Homo sapiens: one gene and its partners. The protein of the gene in region 2 binds, or shares a complex with, the protein of the main gene of each other region. Each region holds a gene or a part of one and is shown on either strand. Other genes may lie near its edges. The genes, in order: MED25, MED24 and MED12.

Region 1 (3,647 bases), on a different chromosome or scaffold from region 2:
ACAGGGCTGGTTGACTGTCTAACATGGCAACTGGCATTCCTCAGATTGAGGGACCCAATAGAGAGAGCAAAGAGGAAGCCCCAGGCCTCTCTTGTTTTTGAGGAAGGGTCTCACTCTGTCACGCAGGCTGGAGTGCAGTGGCTCAGTCACGGCTCACTGCAGCCTCGACCTCCTGGGCTCAAGCTCAAGCGATCCTCCCATCTCAGCTTCCCGAGTAGCTGGAGTAGCAGGGACGGTAGCCAAATGCCAGCACACCTGGCTGATTTCTTAAAAATATTTTTGTAGGTCGGGCGTGGTGGCTCACGCCTGTAATCCCAGCACTTTGGGAGGCTGGGGCAGGTGGATCACCTGAGGTCAGGAGTTCGAGACCAGCCTGTCCAACATGGTGAAACCCTGCCTCTACTAAAAATACAAGCAATCATCCTGCCTTGACCTCCCTAAGTGCTGGAGTGCTGAAATTACAGGCCTTAGCTGGGCATGGTGGCGCATGCCTGTAATCCCAGCTCTTGGGAGGCTGAGGCAGGAGAATTGCTTGAACCTGGGAGGTGGAGGTTGCAGTGAGCCGAGATCACACCATTGCACTCCAGCCTGGGCAACAAGAGTGAAATTCTGTCTCAAAAAAAAAAAAAAAAAAAAATTTTGTAGTGGCGGGGCACGGTGGCTCATCCCTGTAATCCCAGCACTTTGGGAGGCCAAGGCGGGCGAATCACCTGAGGTCAGGAGTTCGAGACCAGCCTGGCCAACATGGTGAAACCCCGTCTCTACAAAAAATACAAAAATTGGGCAGGCGTGGTGGCTCACGCCTGTAATCCCAGCACTTTGGGAGGCTGAGGCGGGTGGATGATGAGGTCAGGAGATGGAGACCATCCTGGCTAACACGGTGAAACCCCGTCTCTACTAAAAATACAAAAATTTAACCGGGCGCGGTGGCAGGCACCTGCAGTCCCAGCTACTCGGGAGGCTGAGGCAGGAGAATGGCGTGAACCCAGGAGGCGGAGTTTGCAGTGAGCCAAGATTGCACCACTGCACTCCAGCCTGGGCAACAGAGCAAGACTCTGTCTCAAAAAAAAAAAAAAAAAAAAAACCATACAAAAATTAATCAGGTGTGGTGGCATGTGCCTTGTAATCCTAGCTACTCAGGAGGCTGAGGCAGGAGAATCACTTCAAGCCAGGAGGTGGAGAGATCGCACCACTGCGCTCCAGCTTGGGTGACTGACTGACTGAGACCCTGTCTCAAAAAAAAATTGTTTTTTTTGTGGAGACAAGGTCCTGCAATGTTGCCCAGGCTGGTTTTGAACTCCTGGTCTCAAGTGATCCTCCACTTCAGTGTCCCTAAGTGCTGGGATTAGAGGCATGAGATGCTGCACCCAGAGGCCCCACTAGGCTCTTTGTAATCAAGTCTTGGAAGTTACACGTCATGTCATTATTTCTGTTACATTCTTTTTTTTTTTTTTTTTTTTTTTTTGAGACAGAGTCTCGCTCTGTTGTCCAGGCTGAAGTGCAGTGGTGCGATCTCAGCTCACTGCAAGCTCCGCCTCCCGAGTTCACGCCATTCTCCTGCCTCAGCCTCCTGAGTAGCTGGGACTACAGGTGCCCGCCACCACACCCAGCTAATTTTTTGTATTTTTAGTAGAGACAGGGTTTCACTGTGTTAGCCGGGATGGTCTCGGTCTCCTGACCTTGTGATCCACCCGCCTCGGCCTCCCAAAGTGCTGGGATTACAGGCGTGAGCCACCGCGCCTGGCCTACATTCTGTTTTTTAACCTGAGACAGGGTCTTGCTCTGTTGCCCAGATTGGAGTGCAGTGGTGGGATCATAGCTTGCTGCAGCCTCGACCTCTCGGGCTCAAGTGATCCTCCCACCTCAGCCTCCTGAGTACCTAGGACTGCAGGTGGGCACCACCATGCATGGCTGATTTCTTTATTTTAATTCTTGTAGAGATGAGGTCTTGCTGTGTTGCTCAGACTGGTCTTGAACTCCTGGCCTCAAGCGATCCTCCTGCCTTGACCTCCCTAAGTGCTGGAGTGCTGAGATCACAGGCCTGAGCTGCGGTGCCAAGTCCACTTCTGCCATACTGCATTTGGTGTGCAGTATAAGCCTATCCCGTTCAGTGTAGGAGGAGACTACCCAGTGTGTAAATAGCAAGAGGCTGGATTGCTGGGTGCTGTATTGGGGGCTGGGTACCGCAACCTCACAGCGATGTTTGGAGAATTAAGTTAGTTGATGATGTTTAATACAGTGCCTGGCATGTATTAAGTGCCGTGTAAGTGTTTCCTAGGATTTTGTGCCTCACTCTCCTGGTTTGCAAATGGATAATGGTCGCGTGTATCTCCGTGTTGTTAGAAGATCACAGGAGCTAAGTTGCTTGCTGTGTGTCGCTTAGGGCCTGGTCTGCAGTCAAGGTTCATTAAACAACACCTGTTCGTAGCGGCCGTTACCTCTGTATGCTTCTGCAGCAGGTGTTTGTTGAGTATCTGCTTTGTTCCAGTATGTGCGTGCAAGTGCTGGGTGCAGGACATATAGTGAAAAGGTGACACAGAAGCTTCCCCTTCGCGGTAGCTGGAATTCGTAGGTAACACAGAGCAGGGTTTCTCATCCTTGGCCCTAGTGACACTGTGGACACAGTCATTCCTTGTAGTGGGGGCCGTCCTGGGTATTGTAGGATGTTTAACATCATCCTTGGCCTCTACTCACTAGATGCCGGTAGCCCCCTCCCAAAGGTGTGACAACCAAAAATGTCTCCAGGCATTATAAAATATCCTCTGGGAAGGGGGCGCAAAATGTATTCCATTTGAGACCACTGGGAGAGACCGGTAAGACAGTCTTGAGTGATGTTAAATGGAGACTTCTTGAGGCCCAGGTCCAAGTCTGATGCTCCTCAAGTGCCTGGCAGCCAGCACAGGGCCTGGTACACAGGAGGCCTCGGGTAAATTCTGTAGAATGAATGTCCAGAATGCATTTAATACTAACCACCCTGGAAGACACTGCATAGCCTTCCAGACCCAGCTCAGGTGTCTTATACCCTGGGAAACCTTCCCGATTCTTGCAGCCAGATGCTTCCTCCTCTGCCTCCATGACCTGTCACAGCCCCACACCTCTGGACTGTGAATGTCCAGGTCCCTGGGTGCTTCTGCCATTTGCTTCCAGCTGGGGCTTGGCACCCACGGGGCTTCAGGAGACTGGCTGAATAAATGAATTAGTATGTAATACAAAAACAACAAATAAATAGAAAAAATTAACCAGGCATGGTGGTGCACACCTGTAGTCCCAGCTACTCAGGAGGCTGAGGTAGGAGGATCAACTGAGACTGGGAGGCAGAGGTTGCAGTGAGCCGAGATTGTGCCACCGCACTCCAGCCTGGGTGAAAGAGCGAGACCCTGTCTCGGGAAAAAAAAAAAAAAAAAAGAGGTGGAAGGAAAATAGACCCAGTGTGTTTCCCATAACATTATGACAACTCAGTTGTTCATTCATATGTTCACTCATTAATTCAACAAATGTTTGTGGAACAAATCGTCCTGGGCACCAAGGAGTTAGTGGGCATGAGATAGGCAAGGTCCTGGCCCTCATGGAACTAGTTTGCCTGGGTGACAGGCCGTGTGTAGGGAGCCCTTGGTCATGGCCGGATGCTGTTAACATTCACTCATTTT
Region 2 (3,647 bases):
CAGGTGAGCCAGCACACCTGGCAATTTATCATTAGTCTTTTTTTTTTTTGAGACAGAGTCTCGCTCTGTCACCCAGGCTGGAATGCAGTGGCGCGATCTCAGCTCAGTACAACCTCTGCTTTCCGGGTTCAAGTGATTCTCCTGCCTCAGCCTCCTGAGTAGCTGGAATTACAGGTGCATACCATCGCGCCTGATTAATTTTTGTATTTTTAGTAGAGATGGGGTTTCACCACGTTGGCCAGGCTGGTCTCAAACTCCTGACCTCGTGATCCACCCGCCTTGGCCTCCCAAATGCTGGGATTACAGGTGTGAGCCACCGCAGCCGGCCTATCATTAGTCTTAAATGCTCTGAAAGCACATTTAAGATTAAAGGAAGATTCAGGATTTTTATTTATTTATTTATTTTTTTTTTGAGACAAGGTCTCACTCTATCGCCCAGGCTGGGGTGCAGTGGCATGATTTCGCCTCACCACAATCTCCGCCTCCTGGGTTCAAGCAATTCTCGTGCCTCAGCCTCCAGAGTAGCTGAGATTACAGGCACACACCACCACGCCCAGCTGATTTTTGTATTTTTAGTAGACATGGGGTTTTGCCATGTTGGGCAGGCTGGTCTTGAACTCCTGGCCTCCAAGTAATCCACCCGCCTCCAGCCTAGGATTTTTACTTTTATCACAAAGATGGGTATGAGTTAAAGAGCAGTGACTAAGAGTGTAAAACTCTGGTCTGAAGACATCTGTGCTTTCTTTTCCTTCCTGTTCCCTGTACCCCCAGGCACGGTCCCAGTCACTTGCAGCCCAAACTTTCGACAGGAGGTTGAAAGGCACGCAGCAGCCCCACCGTAACAAGAGAGAGGTCAAGGGGCTCTTGGGGTAGCACAGGTGCGTTCACACTTACCGCTTAGCCATAAGGTTGTTGACGCTGGCCTCAGACAGAAGCCCCTGCTTGCCACATTCTTGGAGCAGGAAGTTTGTACAGTCACAGCTGTGAGGGAGAAAGATGCTGAGGGAACTGGGCACCTGGATAGGATGGTGAGGGGTGGGAGTGGCAGGTCCCTGAGCAGCATCCTCCCTCTTTCAGGATGAGGAAAATCTGGAGTGCCTGAGGGACGGTAGAGGGGCTCTGGGGACTTGGCAACTGTGGGCTCCTATTTCCTGCCCCTGCCAAGGGGAGTGAACAAGGAGACAGAGTCCCCTGAGGCTTCTCTGGCACAGAGATCAGGGGAAGAGCCCAGAACGCCTTCCAGTAGGGCGGGGGTGACCAGGGGAGCTCATACTTGCAGCGCTGGTCAGCTTTGTCCAACAAGGGGGTGAGCTTCAGCAGGAACTCAAAAGCACAGTTGACATCCTCAGTGAAGTCCTAGAAAGAGGCAGAAGTGTCCATCTGGTTTCCAGGGCCACCAGGCCCTGATCATCTCAGGCAACCTTGTCTGCTGGAGGCATCGGCCTGAGTTGCCTGGCTGCTTTCTGCCTGGAGCCTGGGTGTATGTTGTGGGTGCACGCAGACGCTGAAGCACACACACTGGCTGAAGCACACGTACACGCTGAAGCACACACACGCTGAAACACACACACTGAAGCACGCACACACTGAAGCACACGCACATGCTGAAGCACACGCACATGCTGAAGCATGCACATTGTGAAGCACGTGCACGCTGAGGTGTACACTCACATCCGGCTCTCTTCCAGGCATGAGAACACTGCCCAGCTGGGGCCTGAAGGACCCTCCCCTTTGCCCTTATTTCTGCTCCCATGCCTCCATCTCAATCCCCAACTCACCTTGTCTCCATGAGAGTACTTCTTCAACTTCACCAAAACCTGTGGAATCTAGGGGGTGAGGCAGGGGGAAAAACAGGAAGATCCATTTCTTTTCTCTTTCATCTACCCCTGAAGGCATCCCCCCGAACCCCTGCTCCAGGAAGAGAGACAGGAACACTCCTACCCTGGGAGTGAGAGCACACTTAGTGCTAAATGAGAAAGCCAATAGGTGCCCAGGCCCCTGATGCCCCCAGGCCTAGGCACAGGACACAAGCACCCTGCACCTCCGCTAGCTCAACAGAAAAAGATGCCATAAGCAAAAGTGGATCCCCAGCTTCAAGGAGGACTGGGGCCCCTTTCCCTGGCTCCCTTTACTGCCCTGCACCTATCTGTCTGATGACCAAGCTAAACTGCACCTCTGTGGTAAGAAACAACGGAGTCTGCCAAATGGGCTAAATATAGCCCTGGCACTTTCAGAGAAAATGATCAATGGGAACTTGCACTGGAATACCTGGCAGGCTGGGCCCAGTGCCCGCAGGGAGGAACACAGGGCAAAGGTCCAGGGTGCCACTGGTCTTGCTAAGAACCATTCCTAGACTGGCTCTGCCCCTCCCACGTCCCCAGTACCTTGAGGAAAGTGAAAGCTGTCCACTTGAGCTCCTCCGTACCCTCGGGAGACTCAATGAGCCCCACGAAGCAAGCTTTCCAGATCTCCAGGACAAAAAGTGGGGTGGGGATATGCTGTGGGAAGAGCCAAGGATGAGGCCTAAGAGGGTGCCCATACCCCGTCACCCTTCTGTGGACTCTGAGGATTTGGCTGGGTCAGAGACTGCATGGCAGAGTCACTGCTCAGCTATGTGCTGAGAACCAGGGGAGTAAGGTCCAATGACAGAAGTGTGCACGACTGGCACCCACTTTCCATCATGGAGCAGGAGAAACCCCACTTCTCCCAGGGAGAACCAGAAGAATCCTCCCTCCTGCCCCCAACAGGCTGGCCTGCCTTGGAGAAGGGAGAGCCACTCGGCCCCTCCCACCTGCATGCGCTTCACCATCGTCAGCTGCTCCACCAGGGACTGCGTCTCGCCTGTCAGGTTCATGGTGCCCTCGAGCAGGATCACGGCGTGGACAGTGGGGAAGCCGGTCTTGTGCATCTGCTCCGCATGCACAGACAGCATCGTGGGGATGCTGAGGGGTCACAAACACAGGGGACGGTGTTTGGGGGGCCAAAGGTGAAGGCGGAGAGGATGGCACGGGTGCCACATCTTCCTACCCCAGGGCGTGTCCTCCCTCTCCCTTCTCCACCATCCCCCAGGGAGCCGGTACCTCCTAATGAGGGTGCCACACTGCTCGGCCTGACTCCGGAGCTGCGGGTTGCTGAGATTGGCCAGGATCTCTCCAAGTTTCAAGAGAGAATGCTCGATGGCAGTCCAAGAAGCTGGCAGAGGGAAGGAAGTACAGAAACATGATGGGAAACAGGAGAGAAGGAGCACCTGGCCCTGAACTCCTCGATTTTGGCACTCCCTCCGGCACACGAAACCACACAGGAAGGCTTCCCCTGAGGACAACAGGGAGGGAGGGGCCTGAGGGCAGCATGCACTGTTTCCAGAAGGGGGGTGGGCACCTAGAGCTGGAAACCCCAGAGACCATTCCCAAAAGCCTGATTTCCAGGGGACACAGCCAGCTGACTTCAGAAGGTATGGCATCACACAGGCTCAGGAGAGAGAGGCAGAGGGAGGCCAGAATCCAGTGGCTGGAACAGGGAGGGCGGCCACAAATCACTCGAGGAGTGAGCGGATCCCAAAGTCCAGTCTTGCAGAGGCTGTCACTCTCCTCTGGGGGAACTGGGTCCCTAAATGGCTTTCTCATTCTCAACCACTCCCTCATCTAGGC
Region 3 (3,647 bases), on a different chromosome or scaffold from region 2:
GGACTGGGTGAGGTGAAGAAAGATAGCAAAAAAAACCCCCACGATACATAGTTCCTCACTACAAAGAATCTTTACTATAGCTGGGGAGATGAGACTTATAGAAGAATATTGAGAGAACACTCTGAGCAAAGATATAATCAGGTATGCAGTTGTATGCTATGAGGTAAAATGTGGATTGAGAAAAAGTACGTGGTAATATCTGTGGGCCTGACTCATCAGAGAATGTTTCATGAAGGAGGTCAGACTTGAGTTGGCCTCTGAAGAATAGCTGTGATTGGGATTTGTGGAGAAGAGGAAAAGAAAGGGCATTCCAGGTAGAGGATGTAACGTGAACAAAGACATGGGGACCAGAATGAGGATGGTGCCTGGGGAGAAGGGCCTGGATGGAGTGTAAAATCTGTGCTGGGGAAGTCACTGGGGCTAGGCTAGGAGGGGGCAGGCTGAGAGATGGCCTTGAATGCTCAGCCGAAGAATTGAGACGCAGTCCCAGAAAGGGCTCTTTTGATCAGAAGAGTGATAGGAGGAGTTGGGTATGTTGCAAGGTTCCTTGGAATGAATGGATAGGATGTGTACTGGAAGGTGCAAGAAGAAGACTTCAGGCCAGGCACGGTGGCTCATGCCTGTAATCCCAGTACTTTGGGAGGCCCAGGCAGGCAGATCACCTAAGATCAGGAGTTCGAGACCAGCCTGGTCAACATGGTGAAATCCCGTCTCTACTAAAAATACAAAAATTATCTGGGTGTGGTGGCATGTGCCTGTAATCCCAGCTACTTGGGGGGCTGAGGCAAGAGAATCACTTGAACCTGAGAGGTGGAGGTTGCAGTGAGCCGAGATCGCATCATTGCACTCCAGCCTGGGCAACAGAGTGAGACTCTGTCTCAAAAAAAAAAGAAGACTTGAGACGGGGAGCCTGGCCAGTAGACTCTTGAAGTGATATACACATGTGGTAGAACAACTTGAAATGTTATTTGGGAACAACAACAGCAACAGCAAAAAACCTCAATGAGTGTTTATAGAATGCCTATCTTGTGCTAAGACTATTTTTTTCTTTTCTTTTCTTTCTTTTTTTTTTTTTTTTTGAGATGGAGTCTCGCTCTGTCATCCAGGCTGGAGTGCAGTGGTGCAATCTTGGCTCACTGCAACTTCCACCTCCCAGGTTCAAGCAATTCTCCTGCCTCAGCCTCCTGAGTAGCTGGGATTACAGGCATCCACTACCACGCTCAGCTATTTTTTTTTGTATTTTTGCTAGAGATGGGGTTTCACCATGTTGCCAGGCTGGTCTAGAACTCCTGACCTCAAGTGATCCACCCACCTTAGCCTCCCAAAGTGCTGGGATTACAGGTGTGAGCCACCGCACCCAGCCCTATTTTTCATTTTTGTAACAGAAAAATAGCTAATGCAGAATTGAAAAATTCCTAACCATTAAGGTTATGAGACACTAAAATAGAGTATCATCTTATGCAACTTATTCCCCAGACTGGAAGTCTGGTTAGTGACACGAGGAATGAATGAAATAACCTGCTAACGTTTCTTTCAGGTCAGGGACCCAAGGTTTATACTGACCCCCTCTCCTCACCTCCCTCATGCCTTGACCTCTGACCCTCTTATCTTTGGAGGTTTTCACACCAGACACTGCAGCAGACACCCATGATAAGTACCATGACTCCAATGAGTGCCCAGGGCGTCCAGGCAGGCGTCCGTTCAACAGCCATCCTACCTGAGCAGCAGCAGCAGCAGCAACAGCAGCAACAGCAACAGCAGCAGCAGCAGCAACAGCAACAGCAGCAGCAGCAGCAGCAGTACCACATCCGGCAGCAGCAGCAGCAGCAGATCCTGCGGGTAAGGCACTGGGATTTCATCTGGGACCTGGGAGCCCAGGGAGGAAGAGAGGCACAAGTTCTTCCCACACAGTTACCGAGACTAAACAAGGCAGTGTACCAAAACACCTAGCAGAGCGGCTGGCCTCTAGTGGTGCTGGAGAAGTTTTCTACCCTCCCCCTTTTTGTTTTCTGGGGATCATAGTGGGAGAGAGTTGGACATTGTCTGCTGGGTACCCTAGATTTGGTTTCTTTCTGTGCAGCTGTCTAAAAAGGGAAGGCAGTAGACCCCGAGCTCCCACCCTGCTTCCTCATCCCCTGCCCTCAGCCCTTTAGTTCTGAGGCTTAGCTTCCTCCCTCTGCTCCTTCTGAAGTATCTTTTGTGTTCTTATAGCAGCAGCAGCAACAGCAACAGCAGCAGCAGCAGCAGCAGCAACAGCAACAGCAGCAGCAGCAACAGCAACAACAGCAACACCAGCAGCAACAGCAGCAACAGGCGGCTCCTCCCCAACCCCAGCCCCAGTCCCAGCCCCAGGTAGCTGCTGGACTACAGCCCCAGGCTCAGGGACAGCTGCCCAGGTTGGGCACGCAGCCAGTGAACTGGGTTGGGGACAGTATGGAATAGGGTAGAGGTGGGAGGCAGGGCATGGCACCCTAAAAATGGATTGGGAGGCCAGGCGCAGTGGCTCACGCCTGTAATCCCAGCACTTTGGGAGGCCAAGGCAGGTGGATCACTTGAGGTCAGGAGTTCAAGACCAGCCTGGCCAAGATGGTGAAACCCCGTCTCTACTAAAAATACAAAAAATAATAATAATAAATAAGCCGGGCATGGTGGCAGGTGCCTGTTATCTCAGCTACTCAAGAGGCTGAGGCAGAGAATTGCTTGAACTTGGGAGGCAGAGGTTGCAGTGAGCCAAGATCATGCCACTGCACTCCAGCCTGGGGGACAGAGCGAGACTCCATCTCAAAAAAAAAAACGGATTGGGAAAGGAGGTTGAAGAAGGAGAAAAGTTCGACTTCAGTCTTCCACTTCCTATTTCCACCCAGTTCCAGCGCCAGGGGCTTCAGCAGACCCAGCAGCAGCAACAGACAGCAGCTTTGGTCCGGCAACTTCAACAACAGCTCTCTAGTAAGCCTGCCTGCCTTCCCAAGGAGAACCCCATGGAATAAATTTAGGGGGCGGGGTGGGCCAAAGTAGCTGAAACGATAGCTTCAGGCCCAGGTTATGAGAGGAGGCATTCCATTCCATCCCCTTCCCTCGATACCTGAACAGCTTTCCTCGTGCATACCCACACCCCTGCCTGGTCTTCCATCCCTGATAATCTCTGGTTTTTCACAGATACCCAGCCACAGCCCAGTACCAACATATTTGGACGCTACTGAGCCACCTGGAGGAACTGCTTGTGCACTGGATGTGGCCCCACCCTTTCCTCTTAATTCCCAATCCCATTCCTGGGCTAGCACCAGTAGTGGTTGGGGCCCTCCCCTCAGGCTCCATTTTTAATAAGTTTTTAGTATTTTTGTTAATGTGAGGCATTGAGCTGTTGGGTTTTGTATATTATTTATATAGAGACCCCAGAGCTGTTGCACCCAATACACAGAGCTTCTTTGCAAAGGGAGTGTGCGAGTTCTGCATGTCTGGGAAGGGTGGTCTCTTGGGAGAATGCAGGGGGTTGGACCAACAAGTCAGAGTCTTCATTCTATTCTGATCATCTCCCCTGTTTACCTTACACTCTAAAATTTCTTTTTTTCTTTTTTTTTGAGACGGAGTCTTGCTCTGTCGCCCAGGCTGGAGTGCAGTGGCGCGATCTCGGCTCACTGCAACCTCTG

The links.
Region 1: MED24 (region 2) and MED25 share a complex: the UniProt entries of both Homo sapiens proteins name them as parts of the mediator complex.
Region 3: MED24 (region 2) and MED12 share a complex: the UniProt entries of both Homo sapiens proteins name them as parts of the mediator complex.

What each region holds. Positions count from the first base shown.
Region 1 is NC_000019.10:49,821,201-49,824,847, forward strand, and holds part of MED25 (mediator of RNA polymerase II transcription subunit 25), read left to right. Parts: intron 1-3,647. UniProt on the Homo sapiens protein: Component of the Mediator complex, a coactivator involved in the regulated transcription of nearly all RNA polymerase II-dependent genes.
Region 2 is NC_000017.11:40,030,265-40,033,911, forward strand, and holds part of MED24 (mediator of RNA polymerase II transcription subunit 24), read right to left. Parts: intron 3,193-3,647; coding exon 3,081-3,192; intron 2,943-3,080; coding exon 2,792-2,942; intron 2,499-2,791; coding exon 2,385-2,498; intron 1,827-2,384; coding exon 1,779-1,826; intron 1,357-1,778; coding exon 1,274-1,356; intron 982-1,273; coding exon 895-981; intron 1-894. UniProt on the Homo sapiens protein: Component of the Mediator complex, a coactivator involved in the regulated transcription of nearly all RNA polymerase II-dependent genes.
Region 3 is NC_000023.11:71,139,019-71,142,665, forward strand, and holds the end of MED12 (mediator of RNA polymerase II transcription subunit 12), read left to right. Parts: intron 1-1,616; coding exon 1,617-1,839; coding exon of another isoform or gene 1,840-1,950; exon of another isoform or gene 1,951-2,211; coding exon 2,212-2,352; intron 2,353-2,864; coding exon 2,865-2,946; intron 2,947-3,156; coding exon 3,157-3,200; 3' UTR 3,201-3,432; downstream 3,433-3,647. UniProt on the Homo sapiens protein: Component of the Mediator complex, a coactivator involved in the regulated transcription of nearly all RNA polymerase II-dependent genes.